Regions from separate parts of the Homo sapiens genome. Here region 1 is linked to region 2. Evidence: fine-mapped expression QTL. A gene starts in region 2. The other region holds a variant in brackets. All regions are shown on one strand. Distances are between the middles of the regions.

Evidence for each region. PIP is the estimated chance that this variant, and not a neighbour inherited with it, causes the effect.
Region 1: its variant is the best candidate, but not a certain one, in a credible set for the expression of HAUS7 in cerebral cortex (GTEx, PIP 0.61).

Annotation. Positions count from the first base shown.
Region 1 is chrX:153,491,483-153,496,841 of GRCh38, forward strand. BGN (biglycan) reads left to right here and starts at 3,498. Exons shown (of 8, transcript NM_001711.6): 1 at 3,498-3,631. It also overlaps a transcript of HAUS7 not described here. RefSeq lists an enhancer at 1-440. The variant G/A (reference allele first, on the strand shown) is at 2,921.
Region 2 is chrX:153,468,157-153,473,510 of GRCh38, forward strand. It overlaps HAUS7 (HAUS augmin like complex subunit 7), which reads right to left and starts at 2,420. Exons shown (of 10, transcript NM_001385482.1): 1 at 2,294-2,420; 2 at 990-1,105. The coding sequence starts at 2,401. RefSeq lists enhancers at 1,712-1,891, 2,042-2,141, 2,655-2,949 and a silencer at 2,472-2,781.

The DNA of each region.
Region 1 (5,359 bases), 23 kb after region 2:
TGCCTCCCCTCCTCCCAGCCCCCTTCTTCCGTGGCCCTCTCCCTCCCTCAGACATGTCCTTGTCCCATCCTTCCGTCCCATGGCTGCCGCCCCACCTGCTACCTTCCAGCAGCCGTCCTGGGCGCTGTCCCAGGCAGGCTGGGGTGGCAGCTGCCTGATGAGGCCTAGACCAGAGTTAGGCTCAGAGCAGGGAGACCACAGTGTGGCCTGGGGCCCTGTGCAGGGGCAACTGCCAGGGCAGGACAGCTTTCCCTGCAGGGAAGCCTGAGCAGGCTGCCCAGGGCTGCCCTCCCCACGCAGCTGAGGGGGTTGGGCTCCTTGTCAGGTGGAGAGAGCTGAGCTCTCGGCTCCATCCGGCAGGAGAAGGGGTCTCCCGGGCTGGGATGCAAGGCAAGGCTGGTGCCAGCAGGACCTTCTGGCCCTCTACAGCCTTTTGGGGGAAGCATCCCAGCTAGGGCCTAGGGGGCCTGTGCAGTGGCATCCCAGGGTCACATACAGGCCGTGCTGGAAGGGGCCGGGTTCTGCTTCCCCCACCTCCTGCTCCCTGTCTGCCGCGGGTTCCTGGGGAGCTAAGACAGCTGTGTGTCCGCCTCCTCCCCAGGATCCCTGAGGGCCTCAGGAAATGCCTGCTCTTCCTTCCTGCCTTGCGCCCCCCGTGCCTGCCTTCCCCCTGCTTCCCCCTGCCTCCTCCCAGCCCTGAGAGGCCAGAAGGGCAGAAGGCTGCCCGCCCGCCAGCTCTGCTCGCTAGCAAGGAAGCACTGTTCCTAGAGCACTTCAGCTGGGATCAAAGTACCTTCTGCGCTGCAGAGAGAGCCCAGGCCTGAGGAGGGGGGAGTGGGAGGGGGAGCAGAAGGGGGAGGCCCTAGGACTGAGGTACTGCCTGTCTGGTCTGGGAGTGGCCCCCAAATTAGAGGGCCAGGCCGAGTGACTCAGTGGGCCCTAGCCAGGCCGAGTGACTCGGTGGGCCCCGGGCCGGGCGTGCAGTTATGGCTTATTGCAGACTGCAAACCACAGATACAAAAACCTTCCAGGTACAAGGACCGTATTTATATGAGTATTGCCCCCAGAAGCAGCCCCCAACTTCAGGTAAGAGCTGCAAGGTGCATGCATAATGTGTCTCCCCCAAGCAGGGTGTCGCCTCATCGCCACTTCCAAGCCCCCATCCAGGAACATGCCTGGCTGAGACCTGAGGGTGAGGTCGGTGCAGGGCCGGACTGCAGCGCCGCCTGGCTCCCCTGTGTCTCCCCACACCCCCCCGCACGTGTGCTCTTCCTTCCACCGGCAACTTCCCTCTTCCCTACTGGTCTGCTCCAGGTCACCTCCTCCAGGTAGCCCTCCCGAGCCTCTGGCACTGTGCATGGCCCTGCGCCCCCACGGTATTCAGAGCTGTTTCACCCCCACTGGGACTCCTGGAGGCTGAGGCCCTGAGTGACAGCTCCTGGGTTCTCAGTCCCCAAGCAGTGCAGGAAGGTACTGGGTACCAGCACCTCGGGCAGCAGGCATGCCTTGAGTGGGTTTCTCCTTTTTTCTGAAACGGCTTTACTGAGAGTGGCTGTGCTTACCACACGATTTGCGCATTGAGCACGTACAAGGCAAGGGCTTTTATATGGTCTATTCACAGAACTGTGCAACCATCACTCAGTCGATTGTAGAACATTTTCATCACCTCAAAAAGAAAACCCATACCTTTAGGTACCACCCCTCTAGCACCCACTGCCCACAAATCCGCTTTCTGTCCCCACAGATGAGCCTAGTGTGGACATTTCAAATGAATGGAACCAGAGGCTCTGCGGCCTTTTGCGACTGGCTGCTGTCACTGAGCGGAATGTTTCCAAATGCTTCTCTCTCCACCCAGACTGCTAGTCAGGCTTCGCTGCCTGTCCCGCTCTCTACCGACATATTTCTCCACGAATGAGTTGGCAGTGGGGGAGGGAAAGAGGGTGGGACAGAGATGAGACCAGGCTGCCAAGAGTCGGACGCTGAGGCTGGGCAAAAGGTAAAACACACAAACCTGCCGAAAGACAAGCCATCTCCTTTGTCTGGAAAGGGCATATGTGGTCTCCAATCTCCTCATTCCAACCATGAAATCAAGAGAGAACCAGGGTTACCAGCCTGGCCCCTGGTTTCCCACGTCTCTCTTCTCCCTGGCCCAGTCTAGAAGCTTCTTGCAGGCAGGTACCACAGTTTGGTCAAGGTGCCATGCGTCCCAGGTCCTAGCCAGGCCCTGGGCTGCCGCTGGTGAACAGGAAGGGGGTCTGTGCCCTGCCATGCCCCCAGGTAGAGCTCCCCTGGGAGCATCCTCCCTGGCCTGGGACCTCCCAGACCCCACCCCCCGGTTGAGTGATGGCACTGCCAGGGGTTGAAGACCCTCAGCCCTCGACGTTGTCCTCTCTCCATTGGATGCCGCCTCTCTCTAGCCACCCCTCTCTCCCTCTCTGCCCCTTCGAGCTTTTTCTCTCAATATGCAATTTTCTCTTTTGGTCTTCCGCACTCTTGGCCCCCAGTTCTATTGCAGATCTGTTTCTCACTCCATCTAAACTCTTACCCCTGTGTCTCAGGAGCTGCTCTTGCTGAGGGAAGAAGGGGACACTACGGGACAGGGGGGCAGTGTCGTACTAAGGACCTGGGCTCTAGCCACTGGAGGAACTGGACTCATTTGGGCCCTCAGGAAGCGGCTGAGTCTTGGTGGGGTAACCCGGTTAGCCCCCGTAAGTGACCAGCACAGGGCTGAGCCCAGAGGAAGTGGCCACCCACAGAGTGGTTCTCATGTCCGAGGGGACCTGCAGGGATTGAGCAAGAAGACTGACTCGCTGGATCCTTCGTCTCTGAATCAGTTCAGGGCAGGCAAGCTGGGGAGCCCCCTGCCCCGTCCTGCCACCACCAGCCGGATCGGGCCCTCTTTTTAAGGGAAGAAAGTCTG[G/A]AGTGGAAGGGAGGGCACAGGGCGCCAGGAGCCTACATGAAGTCCTTCCAGAAATCCACAACAGCTACCTCTCTGATCCTGGAGAAACCACCTCCTTGCTTAGGCCCAAGCAGGTTCCTGGCAGGCTCAGGACCAAATTCCAGGGGCCACTCATGGGCCTAGCAGCCCAAGGCCGCCTCCCCCTCGTCTTTCTTCCATCTCTCTTTCCTCTGCCTGGCGAGATGCCAGCCAGCACCTCAGTGTCCCCATCTGGGCAGTGGAAAGTTTGACTCTCTGGGTCCTTGTTTGAGTGAGTGCGAGTGTGTCCGTTCCTTTGCTGTCTGCCCCAGGCGGGGGAGGGGGGGGGAGGTGGTGGGGGCGAGGGGGCGGGGGCTCAGCTAGTCCAGCCGTCTACAAGAAAATTGCTCCCTTTGAAGCTGCCAGGGGGGCCGGGAAGCCTGCCCCCTCCTGCTCGCCCGCCCTCTCCGCCCCACCAGCCCCCTCCCTCCTTTCCTCCCTCCCCGCCCTCTCCCCGCTGTCCCCTCCCCGTCGGCCCGCCTGCCCAGCCTTTAGCCTCCCGCCCGCCGCCTCTGTCTCCCTCTCTCCACAAACTGCCCAGGAGTGAGTAGCTGCTTTCGGTCCGCCGGACACACCGGACAGATAGACGTGCGGACGGCCCACCACCCCAGCCCGCCAACTAGTCAGCCTGCGCCTGGCGCCTCCCCTCTCCAGGTAGGGCTGGCTTCAAGCTGCCTCCTCAGCAACCCAGAGATGCCCCTGGCTCTGCTGCCTCCGCTGTCCCAAGCCCTGGTCCTGCTGTCCCCAGTGCCGCGAGGGTGTCCACAGATTTCCCCGGTGCTCTCTGTAGGCTGCTGATCCACGCCCCTTCATCGCCACCCTGCGGCCCCCTTGGTCCCTGTCAGGCTTCTGCCTCGTCTCGCCGCCCTCCAGGCACCTTTCCCTCACCCCTTCCTCTCCCTCTCCCTTCTGACCTTGCTCTGCTTCATCCACCTCTTGTCTCTCTGCCTCCCGCTCGGGGTCCGTCTTCTTGGCTACCACCCTAGAGCGTGGCTGGGTGACTGGTACCCCAGCTTTGCCAATGGCCCTGTTTCATCATTGCAAGTCCCAGGCGCATGCTCCACTCCCTCAGCCTCGCTCTGCCCAGGCGCCTCCTTGCTCCAGGGCTTGGCGCCTGGCCCGGGTTGGGTCGGATCGGGGAGGACCGCCCAGCGCCCACCGAGCTCAGCACCCAGGAGCAGTCCTCCGCTGCACTGCCTGAGGCCAGTCCTTGGCATGGGCTGAAAGACTTAGTTTCCCAGGCACACCCCAGGCACCCTGCCCAGATGTTCCTCGCTCGCTCACCCCCAGGTTAATGCTCTGCCTCTACATCCTCTGTGAGAAGTCTGGGTCCTGGGAGCCCTGGCTGCAAGGGCCCTGACTGGGGGTGCCTGGGTGGCTCAGCCCTGTCTGTTTCCAGGACCCCCTTGGACTGGGACTCAGAATGGGTGTGGAGGGGAAGGAGAGAAAATCAGGCAACTGTGCCATGCTCCCCAGGGCGGACCTGGCTTGGGGTCCCAGAGGGGCCTGCCAAGGGACCCAGGAGAGGGAGCGAGAGAGTGCCCTGGAAGGCCCACGGAGGGGAGCGCCCCCTCACTGCTCCATGGGCGGGGCTGGGTGCCTGAGCGCCTGCTGAGCAGAGCAGGGGGCCCAGGGATCTGCAGGGCACAGGGTACATCAGTCTCCAGTGGTCTGTCTTGGTGGGCAGGCCTCTCTCCTGCTGTCCTGGCTGCCAGACTGCTCAGGTCCCATCCTCAGGGGGTCCTGTTTCTGGGCCCTCGCCCCTCCCTGGCCTGCCAGCTCTCTGCCCTATAGCAACTAATTGGAACTGAGACAAGCTGGAGATGCTCAGCCCCCCTGCCCCCGTGCCAGAAAGGCTCCCGGGGACCAGCGCCCAGGGGTGCGGGTGAGCACCTCCTGGTGACACCCAGCCGCCGGTGCCAGCCGCACCCCAGGAGAGCTGGTGTATGAGCATGGATGTCTTGGTGCGGAGCATGCCCATGTATGGCCACTGTGGGCCAGCATGGTGAGCCTTTGAGGGCAAGCCCGTGTGGGTATATTGAAAGGAAGATGCAGGGCTGCCTCCAAGCCACCAGGGCTGGGCGGTGGGAGCAGGTTGCGAGCCAGGGAGCAGAGAGGGCTCCCATGGCAAGCTGGCCAGCTGTGGGTGGCAGCCCTGGCCTCCCTGGCCCACCTTCAAGCCCCAAGGACCCGTACGGCAGTGGGCATTAACCCTACCAACGCATAGATGGGGAGTCTGGGAAAGGAAGGGGGGTGTTTCCAAGGCAAGAATGAGTTTCCTGTCTTTAGCAACATTCCAGAGTCACTCAAACAAAGCTATAGCGTGTCCCTTCCAGTGACAGCGCCAAGTCCCCAGAGGAGGGGTTTGTAATGAGTTCACAC
Region 2 (5,354 bases):
GGGGCCTGTATCCAGCTGGGCGTCCTGCTGATGTCTCTGGTCCTGGCGGGCCAGACCGGCTGGATGCAGGTTGGCTCCCCACTGCTCTACTGCCAGGCTCCCGCCCAGGCCCCTTCCTCAAGCAGCAAGGGTAGGCAGGCCGCAGGCTGAGGAGGGGGAGGCCCGGGCCTGGACTCACGAGAGGCTCCTGTACCAACAGACTACAGCTGTTCCTGAGCATGGCCTGGGCACACACCCAATCCCACAGGAGCCTGTGCTCTGTGGGAGGCGGGGAAAGCCTTCTCCACTCACAGCTGTGAGGCAGTGAGACAGACCCTCAGCTCAGGGACTACGTCACCAGGGGAAGGATGTCTGCCCTGGGAATGGGACACTCTGGATCATTTCCTCCACCATCACTCAGGAAGTCACCCTGTCACCATGGGCTTCATAGGGTGCCAGGCACACACCATGCTACACCCTGGCCCAAAGGCACCAGAGGACTGGGAAACGGGTCACGGCACAGAAGCTGACAAGAGGTGACACTGCATGAGGACCACTTGGCCAGCTGAGACCCAGCCAGGAGCCCACGCCCTGGCCCTGCCTGTCACTCCTCCACTGGGAGACCAGAGACTGTTCATGCCTCCAGCCTGACCCTTGGCTTCCGGGTCTGAGAAGGAAAGGACTGGAATGGAGCATTTCTCAGGTGCCTGCCAGTCCTGAACCTCCAAACTCATAAGGCAAGGCAAACGCTGAGGGCAAGTTCAGCACTGCAGCAAAGGGGTGGCTGGACTAGCCCAGCACCGCCAGGGGCCACTTTGCCCCAAGTTTGATCATGCCTGTCACCAGTACTCCTTACCTACACAGCTGTTCTCACGAGGGTCCAGGCTAGGGGGTGGAGCCCTCTGGGAAGACAGCTACTCACAGTAACCACAAACCCCATCTTCCCCAGGTGGGGCTGGCTGGCGCCCATGCACACCCCAGGTGGGAAGAGGAAGAAACTGATGCATTACCGGGTACACATCCACTCTAGGATCTCCAAGCGGTACTCTGAGGGGCTGCACAGCAGTTCCTGAATTGTCTTTGGCTCTGTGATATACAGACCCTCGAGGAAGGGGCAGTTTAGGTCCTAAGCAAGGAAAAGGAAAGCAACATTCACTGAAAGTCCCAGTGTACATCATTTCATTTTATTTATTTATTTATTTTTGAGACGGAGTCTCACTCTGTCGCCCAGCCTGGATGGAGTGCAGTGGCATGATCTCGGCTCACTGCAGCCTCCACCTCCTGGGTTCCAGCAATTCTCCTGCCTCAGCTCCCAGGGTAGCTGGGGGATTACAGGCATGCGCCACCACGCCCGGACAATTTTTGTATTTTTAATAGAGACGGAGTTTCACCATGTTGGCCAGGCTGGTGTCAAACTCCTGACCTCAGGTATCTGCCCACCTCAGCCTCCCAAAGTGGTGGGATTACAGGCGTGGGCCGCCGCGCCCAGTCCTCAGTGTACATCTGCAAGCTCCCAGGACCCTTTCCTTTACCCGCGTCCTGCCATCTTGCCAAGAGTTCAAGTCCCCCCATTCTTAACCCCACATCTCCCGCGGCATGCAGACCCCACCTCTTTCAAGTACTCCCACTCTGGGCTCTTGTGGCAGCAGGACCTAGGAGCAACGCCTGAGACTAAGACTTAAGAGAGAGTCCTAGGTTTCGGGACTGAGGGAAAGGGGAGAGGGAAAGGGAGAGGGACCACTGAGCCAGTCGCGGACAGGATGGGGGAGTGTCTGGGGGGAGGAGCGAGCGGGCCGAGGGGACCTGGGACAGCTCCCTAACCTCGTGGGCCAGCTTTCCTCACTGCTGCAGTGAGGGCTCTGTCCTGTGGGGCTGTAGAGGGCTTCTGGAGGCTATCACCCCTGGCATCTGACACCAACTGACACCAAGCCCTAGTCTCGCTGACTTGACAGAGTGGCACGAGGCTCTGCCCATCTGTCCCCCCAGACCCCGCAAGATCCCTAAGGCCAGGCCTGGGTCCTCTGTGTCTGCACTTGCTCCGAGCGCCCAGCGCGGGTACTGCAGTTCCACAGGCGGTGCTGGCCCCAACTACCAGGCACGGGCCGTGGAGACAGCAAGAACGAAGGCCTGGGGCACACCAAAGGGCAAAGATGAATGATCCACAAGCACCCCCTGCTGCAAGGGAACAGGGCGCAGCCGGAACCGGCGACGGTGGCCGCGTGGCGCCGCGGACTTCCGCAGCAAGCCCTCCCGGGCCTCGGGCGGGGCCCTCCCCGGTCCCCCGCCCTGGAGTGGCTTTCTGGGCCAACAGCACCTTCAGCTTCCCGAACACCTCCACAGCCGCCCTGGACACGCTGCTGTCGCCCTCGTCCTCTGAGTAGTCGTCGCCGCCACGGCCGCAGCCAGCGTCCTGCCCCGCCATGTTTCGCGCTCCGAGCCGCGCCCCGCCCATGCCCTGGCTTCACTGGCCGGCAAGACCGCCAATCAACCTCCAGCGTTCTTCCCGCCCACCCGCCTGCGCCCACCCCCTTCCCGACCGACCCTTCCCATTGGGCGACATCTCCGCCTGCGCGGGCCCCGGGCTCCCACCCCCCGCCCCGGCACCACCCAGAGGCAGGACCACAGTGAAGCGGGCAGGGCGGACACAGGGAAGGGGGCGGGGCGGACACAGGGAAGGGGGCGGGGCGGACACCGGGAAGGAGGCGGGGCGGACACCGGGAAAGGGGCGGGGCGGACACCGGGAAGGGGCGGGGCGAACGGGCCAAGCTGGCTCTGAGTCGCAGGCCTTGCTGGCGTCGCCCCTGCTGCCGGCCGGGAATGATGATGCGTTGAAGCGAGGCTCTTCCAGGAGGGGGCGCTCCTGCCTTGGTCGGGTTCTCCTGGGCCACCACCACTAAGGGGCACCCTGGTTCCCAGGAGGACCAAGGGGAGCCTTGGGTGCAGAATGGAACTCGGACTGAAGCGTTCCTCTCCCAGCGCGGGGCTCCGTCTTCTCTTCACCATGCTCACGCTGTAGTTAGAAGGAAATTTCTTGTCACTCACCAGCTGTGTGCCTTTGAACCAGTTACCTAACCTCTCTGTGCCTCTTTGCCCTCACCTAATGGAGCTAATGAGAGCACCTTACCCACTGGGTTGCTAATGAGGATGGCAGGCGGTAATAATTCCTGTGGAATCCCTAGAACAGTGCCCGGCGCATGCGAAGAACCACGTAAATGCTCACTATTGTAATACATGCTGGGCCCTGCTCCCCTCACGGCTCCTGGGGCTACCTGTGGCTCCTTCCTATCCTGTCTACTTAACAAATTTTTCTACATCCCTCAGGACCCTCAAACTCAATGCGTCTGCAATGAAATATGTCAGTCGCTCCTCCCCCAGACCTGCAAAGCCCCCAGTTCACTGAATGCCCCTTACCCAGGGACCTGCTGATTGGGCAAGGCAGGAAGGAGTTGGAGGGTGGCTTGTGCCCAGTAGCCAGGAGACAGCAGCAGGCAGCTGCCACTGTGCCCTCCTCTGTGCCCTACCCTGCCATCTCCTGGAGGGTGGGATCAGGGGGCAAGTCTATAGTCAGGGAGACCCAGGGACCTGCTGGGAGGCAACTGCAGTCATCCAAGTGACAGGAGGGGACTTCACTCCGTCCTGGGAGGAGGGAGCGGGCAGGAGTCCGGGGGTCACAGGAAGGGACCTCAGCCTGGGAGGCCCCGACACAGGCCCAGCGAAGTGCCTCAAGGTTGCTCTCTACCCTTCCACGTGGCTGCTGCCTCAGGCCCTTCTGGTAGCTGAGGGCTGTCAAAGGCTTTGGGATTTTTTTTTAAGCGTTTTTTTCCCTCTTTTTTGTTTTTGTTTTTCTTTCTTTCTTTTTAGAAAATTTCATCTCAATCACAGCCCCAGCTCAGACATTCAAATTCTTGTGGGTTTTTCTGTGGATCTTTCCTAGGACTGGGGAATTTGGCGGAAGAAACCACGGCAGTGTGGCAGCCTCCCCCAACCCTCCCCATATTCTCTGCTCCTGAGGACCGGGAAGAAACCAGCTCCTGTGTACTCTGGAAGAAAATCTCCCTCCTCCACCCAGCTCCACGGAGCCAGTGTGCTCAACAGGCCTCCCCAACCTCAGCAGTTCAGTCTATGGGACCCTGAGGAACTGGCAGGGCCTTGAGAGGCGAAGATCATCTTGAGAGGTTATGGAGGCCATCCCCCTCATGGAGAACCTGTTGGCCAGCCCTCAGCCCCTGGAGATGGTCGCTGAAGACCCAGCAGCAGGCTGCAGCTTCCCTGCCCACGCCACCCCACCACCCACCACCCACCACCCACCACCTGCCACCCACCACCCGCCCCCAGAATCATAGCACCTCCCAGGCATCTTCCTCCGGAAAAGCTGGAGGCTGGGGAGGGAACAGAGAGGCTGCTGGGCCTCTCAGGAAGGGGGAAAGAAGGGGCCCAGAGGTAGAAGCTTCTGGAAATGTGGACTCAAGCTCAGTCCAAGAAAGCACTCCTCCCAGAAATCACTGTCTGAACACCAGCTGGCTGCCAGGAGAGGAAGGGAGCTCCCGGTCCTAGAAGGTCTACAAGCCCAGGGAGGTGGGTGGGCGGGGATGTGGAGGGTTGAGTCCTACCATGGGGGAGGGAGGGGGCACATCTCTAAGGGACATTCCAACCCAGAGACCCCAGGTTCTCTGAGGGAGGCCTGGGTGGGTCAGGAGCCAAAAATGTGGCTGAAGGACCCATTGACCTGGAGGAGGGATGTTGGGGGGAAGCTGTGGATGTGGCGGGGAAGCTGGGGGGTCCTGGTCATGGAGGAAAGTTGGCCATGCGTCCCAGCAGGGCCTCAGCCGTGTCAGTGCTTGGAAAACACGTTGGAAAATGAGACTGGTTCACGGCACTGGCCCCGCTGTGCCAGAGATGGGCTGGCGGGTGCTGGTGGCATTCGAGACCTCTCAGTTTGTGTGGTGGGCCCAGAGATATATGGCCAAACAGTTGAGCTCACCAAGTGGGCAGCCTCCCTGACCTGTGGAGGGTATTGAAAAAGTCCTCAGAGCATCCGGGCCCTGCTCTTCATATGACCTTAAGGGCAGACCCCACGGTGCAGCGGGAATCAACCAGGGACCCCCCAATCCCCCAAAGACACCGCGAATCAAAGGAAGCTGAAGTCCAAGGGCTTTCCTCTCTGCAGAGGCGGGTCTGCTTCTGGCAGGGGCTGGAGTTAGACCTGAGGGGGAGCCACCCCACCTGGGGGCGCCTAGGCCCTAGAATGCTGTCAGAGCTAAAGCCCTAGAAGGCCTTGCTCCACGGGGCCACTTCGACTCCCGGCCCTGAACCAGGGAACCTGGGGAGGAGCCTTTGAGGGACTGAAGTGTCCTCCATCACCCCCCACCCCTGGC